2 separate regions of the Homo sapiens genome follow, and region 1 is linked to region 2. Evidence: fine-mapped expression QTL. A gene starts in region 2. The other region holds a variant in brackets. All regions are shown on one strand. Distances are between the middles of the regions.

What was found. PIP is the estimated chance that this variant, and not a neighbour inherited with it, causes the effect.
Region 1: its variant is the best candidate, but not a certain one, in a credible set for the expression of RDH11 in whole blood (TOPMed, PIP 0.57).

Annotation. Positions count from the first base shown.
Region 1 is chr14:67,652,647-67,655,559 of GRCh38, reverse strand. VTI1B (vesicle transport through interaction with t-SNAREs 1B) reads left to right here. Exons shown (of 6, transcript NM_006370.3): 5 at 2,062-2,123. It also overlaps a transcript of GPHN not described here. Among named protein-coding and RNA genes, the nearest start is that of VTI1B, 21 kb to the left of the region's middle. The variant A/C (reference allele first, on the strand shown) is at 1,312.
Region 2 is chr14:67,694,518-67,697,430 of GRCh38, reverse strand. RDH11 (retinol dehydrogenase 11) reads left to right here and starts at 1,667. Exons shown (of 7, transcript NM_016026.4): 1 at 1,667-1,801. The coding sequence starts at 1,728. It also overlaps a transcript of GPHN not described here. RefSeq lists enhancers at 1,350-1,399, 1,420-1,469, 1,514-2,150 and a silencer at 2,500-2,559.

The DNA.
Region 1 (2,913 bases), 42 kb after region 2:
ACTGTTATGTAAGTAAAAGTAAAAAAAAAAAAGTAATAGGGAAAAAAATGTCTAAGGATTATCCAGTAAGGTAAGCTGGATCATTGTGGAAAGAAAACAAATATTTAAATCAAATGATGACTATATCAGGGATCTCTAGTCTGCTGTCACTCTGAGAGCCTCAGAAAAATAACTCATTTATTTTTTCCTTTCCATAAATGAGTTAACCTACATAGGAATTTTTTAGTTTTTTAGAGACAGGGTCTTGCTCTGTCACCCAGGCTGGAGTGCAGCAGTGCAATTTTAACTTACTGTAGCTTCAAACTCCTGGGCTCAAGTGATCCTCATGTGTAGCTGCGATACAGGCATGTGCTACTGTGCCTGGCTAATTGTTTTAATTTTTTGTAAAAACGGGGTCTCATTATGTTGCCAAAGTTGCTCTCGAACTCCTGGGCTCAAGCAATCATTCCACCTTGGCCTCCCAAAGCGCTAGGATTACAGGCATGAGCCACTGTGCCCAGCTGGAATTTTTTTTTTTTTTTTTTTTTTTTTGAGATGGAGTCTTGCTCTGTCGCCCAGGCTGGAGTGCAGTGGCGCAATCTCGGCTCGCTGCAAGCTCCGCCTCCCAGGTTCATGCCATTCTCCTGCCTCGGCCTCCCGAGTAGCTGGGACTACAGGCGTCTGCCACCACACCCGGCTAATTTTTCGTATTTTTAGTAGAGACGGGGTTTCACCATTTTAGCAAGGATGGTCTCGATCTCTTAACCTCATGATCTGCCCGCCTCAGCCTCCCAAAGTGCTAGAATTATAAGCGTGAGCCACTGCGCCCGGGCAAAATTTTTTAATTGGTACAATTTACCAATGGAATGCTGTATTCTTAATAGCAGAAGGCAAATCAATTTGAAAAACATACTGTGGCCAAGATTTGGACAGGAAAATACTAGCTCAGTGTGAAGATTTGAGTAGATTTTCTTAATAGCTTCAGTTCTCCATTAAGTCAGAGTAATGCCCTGCCCTCTTCAGTGAAAATTCACAATAAAGTACTACATTCAAGGCAAGCTATGGAGAATGTAACTTGCTTACAGATTGTGTGGGTTTTGGTTTTTGAACATACCAGGTAGATTGGTTGAATTTAAAAGCCAAGGAGGCCGGGCTTACACCTGTAATTTTAGCACTTTGGGAGGCTGAGGTGGGAGGATGGCTTGAGCCTAGGAGTTTGAAACCAGCCTGGGCAACATAGCGAGACCTCATCTCTAGAGCGAGACCTCATCTCTATAGCGAGACCTCATCTCTACTAAAAATCAAAAAAAGGAGCAGGGTGTGGTGGCGTGC[A/C]CCTGTGATCCCAGCTACTTGGGGACATGTGGGGTTATTGCTTGAGCCTGGGAGGTCGAGGCTGCAGTGAGCTGCGATTGCAGCACTGCACTCCAGCCTGAGTGACGGAGTGAGACCCTGTTTCAAATAAATAAAAGCCAAGGAACGAGCTGAGAGGTCAGCTTACCAAGGCCACTGGGGAATGGGAACAGATGGCAAGTAGCCATCTGCTGGAGGTGAAATATCCTCCAGCTGTCCAGATTAGTAGCAAGCAGTTGAAAGTTCCATGGAGGTTAATTCTTTTCACAGTTCAATGTAACTGTCTCTTAAGAGGGTAAAGAAAAAAACCAGATCCCAAAAGCAGTAACAGACCAGCCTACAAAAACAAATGCCAACTCAAGAGGCTGTCCTGGAATTTGGCTGATGAAATTCAAATCTTAAGTTGCTCTACAGTCACTGGCTGGCCAGTCTGCTGGCTACACTTGAAGCCTTCCCTTTTGGAGTAGCCACGGTAGAAGATTAGCTCAGTCTCAGGAGTCCATCCCCAGCAGCAACCTGGGAAGATGATTCTTAAGCCTACTTGATGAGTACTAAAATATCTTGTCCTTTCCAGGTTCTTCTACTTACACTCAAAGGCCATCATTTAAATTGGCTTGATTTCTTGGAATTTTTCAACATATATCCCTTAATGCCTACTGTTAATCTAGGGATATTCAATTGTACAGAGTATACTTTTTAAAGAGGGAAATAATCACTATTTTCTCTTCTCAGCTGGTAAACACAAGTGAAAACTTGAGCAAAAGTCGGAAGATTCTCCGTTCAATGTCCAGAAAGTAAGTTTTATTAAAGTCATGAAATTTCTCTTAACTCAGTGGCTTTCAACCAAAAAGCTTAAAATAGTGACTTACAAAGGTCCTCATAAAGCACCTCAGCAGTTGACGCATAGTCCCTGTATACTCAGTACCACCCAGCAGACCAGAATAAAGACGCTAAGGAATATGGTCTTGGATAATTAAATAACTCAGGATAAAATCATTTGTTAAAAGTATATACTGCTTTGACTTGGAGCAGTGAAAAATTTCTCCACTGAAAGGACATTTAATCACAGCTGATGTTCTTTAGAGAAGGCAACACATGGGAATAACAGCTTCCTATTCCTTGAAATATATTTATATAATCTCAGCCCCGTGCGGTGGCTCATGCCTGTAATCCCAGCACCTTGGGAGGCTGAAGCGGGCAGATCACAAGGTCAGGAGTTCAAGACCAGTCTGGCTCAAATGGTGAAACCCGTCTCTACTAAAAATACAAAAAAATTAGCCAGGCGTAGTGGCGGGCACTGTAATCCCAGCTACTCAGGAGGCTGAGACAGAATTGCTTGAACCTGGGGGGTGGAGGTTGCAGTGAGCCGAGATGGCACCACTGCACTCTAGCCTGGGGGACAAAGCGAGACTCCGTCTCAAAAAAAAAAGAAATATATTTGTAAAATCTTGATTAGAAAGTAGTTTTCACTTGCATAGTACTTGCTTTTGGCTCTGCTTGCCCTTCATGGGAGTCAGCTCCTTTTCTGGAAGTTCTATATTGTAGGGAAGAAGTAGACTTTTAAAAATAAAACCCTTGTGGAGT
Region 2 (2,913 bases):
AGTGCACCCTGCTTTCTCTGACTGTGAACCCTCAGGTGGGGTCTTTCCTCTGCTCAGCACACTCTTGTCTATGTTGCTTGCCTACTAACTTCCCTCTGGCCTCCGCTCAAATGTTATTTCCTCAAATAAGCCTCTCCTGATCTAGAACTCCTCTCCCTTGTAAAAGCTCCCAGAGCTTTCTCTAATCCTCCTCATAACCTTCACCATGATTTATTTACAGTGATTACTTATTTAAGGTCTTCTCTGACAGTCCATGAACTCCGGGCGAGCAGAGATTATGTGTTCCTGGCTTCCTGCTGGACATCAGCACAGTGCCTAGTACACTATAGGAATGCCATAAATGTTTGTCAAATGCGTGAATGACTGAATAAGGAACAAAACAAATGAAAGGCTTTTATAAAGTTATAAAACCCAATACAAATATTAGGTAACACAATAATGAGAATGTGACAAAATGTGATGATTGCTAGGTAATCTAATGTTAAATTGGTAGGAATTAGTATTGTGTGAAGGAAACCCTCTCTTCTCCAATTTGCTATAAAATATATTAGTTCATTGGAACCCGTGTCTTTTAACCAAATGGAAATTATGCAAAAGGACCAGAAAATATTACTGGGTACAATTAAGGAATCACAGACAGATATTGATTGGTTAAAACACCCTCCACTTTCACCCCCAGGAAATAGGCCTCAGATGAAAGAAACTATTGAACAGGGAACCTATTTATTCACAGAGAACATATTCATGGCCTTAATTCAAGACAGGATTAAATACTTTCACGAGTTGGCAAAACCAACTGTGCCAATCTGAGATATTCATTGCTACCCTGGGAGTTAATGTATGTGACCCAAGCCATCAGGAAGACGATATTCTATTATCAATGAACACTCAAACACTAGAAAAATCATGATAGTTGCCACCATAATTCAAGATAGACACAATAAAGTGATTCTCCTGAGAATGTCTTCAAGGACTTATTGCTTCCTCTTCTCTGGAAAAAGGAATCCTCGAGGAGGAAGGGTTTACATTCCCCCACCTTCCCAACTGTCAGACTTCGGACCGCTCCTCTCCTGTCTAATCCGCCTTTCATTTCCCAGACGCCAACATCTGATCTCCAGGAGAAACAGTGCGGTAACTGCCTAACCAGGATTGGGGAAAACTGAACCAGGCACTGGACTTGGGTCTGGGGAGATAGAGGACTGCAGAGATTTCACAAACACCGCGGTGCCTAGTACACTATAGGAATAAGTGTACTATTCCTATAGTGTATACTTTTTTTTTTCCAGAAAAATCCCTCTGGGGTATGAGCACTATTTTCAGTTCTGGTTCAACTTTTCATTGAGATTCTATGTGGATAAGAGGATCTTGTAGTGAAAAAAAGATAAAAAGCAGTGTTTTCATCTGAGTGTGAGAAACCATGTGTGCCTAGAGGTGGGAGAACTGAGTATTCAGAAGGCAGAAAAAATAACTGAGAGCTGGGTGAATGATCCCACAGGCCCTAAGCCCTAGATGGTTGGGGATTAGCGATGTATAATTCAACTTCTGCCAGCGTTGGCGGCAGCGCTCCCACGTAGCCAGCCTGAGGCTGTCAAGCTCTGGACTACATTTCCCAGAAGGTCTGCTCCCCGGGCTGTCGCAATTTGAATTGGGGCGTGTCTAGAAAGAGAAGCCATAGTCGGCGAGCAACGCTGGAGCATCCCGCTCTGGTGCCGCTGCAGCCGGCAGAGATGGTTGAGCTCATGTTCCCGCTGTTGCTCCTCCTTCTGCCCTTCCTTCTGTATATGGCTGCGCCCCAAATCAGGTCTGTGCAAATGTATTGCCTTCTCTTGAGAATTCTTGTTGCGGGGCGGGAGGGAAACATAGAATCCCCACCAAAGCTTTCTTGGAAAACTCCCCTGGGGGGGCTCCAAGATGGCGGAGCCCAGAGTTCGGTGGGTTGGAGGCGAGGTCCAGCTGTCCTGGGTGCCAGGAGGACACCCGAGACCCCAGGCGGTGAGAAAGGGCGGCAGTCCGGGGCACACTGCTTTTCCCTGGCCTGTTTTTCTTTTGTCTAAGCACCCCCTGATTCTGGCTCCAGGGAATCCCGAGGGTAAGGCTACCTCAAACGCTTGAGTTTCGGACTCTTCAATGGGATATGGCCCGACGCTGTTTTCCCCTTATTCCCCACGCCTTAAACCAGCCTTCGAGGTACAAAGGAGCGATTCCACATTTCGCCCTCTGAAACTGATAGCAATCGTAACATCTGCGGCCCCATCCTTGCTCTCTCGTTGCTGTTACAATCGCTTGTTCTGTGGGCGGATGTTGTAAAGGAGAAAAGTGAAAAGGAAGAGTGTTTGGTTATGAGCTCTATCCTGCCTTGCGAGCAGGAGCACGGGGGATCTGAGTTAGGAGCTAGGGTACTGGGGCGGTGAGGGCTGGGAGAATGGTGGGAAGGTATTGACCAGGTGATAGATCAATCAGCCCAAGGCTGGCCAAGTGCCCCAGTGAATCAGCAGCGGGCTGTAAAACCGGCAGCCTGCTTATTGGTTCTAAGTAAATCACCAGTGGTGACGGACCAGTGACTGAATAGACAGACACACTCCTTCCCCAGGTGGGCGGTCTTAGTCCCAATAGAACTTGAAGCCAGGCCAGATCACAGTCATTTCTTACCACAGTCACCTACTTTCCTTCTTTTATTTTTATTTTCTCTTCCTTCTCTGGTGCCCCTCTTCCAGTTATATTTTTTCTGCCTTCTGAACACTCAGTTCTCCCACCTCTAGGCACACATGGTTTCTCACACTCAGATGAAAACACTGCTTTTTATCTTTTTTTCACTACAAGATCCTCTTATCCACATAGAATCTCAATGAAAAGTTGAACCAGAACTGAAAATAGTGCTCATACCCCAGAGGGATTTTTCTGGAAAAAAAAAAA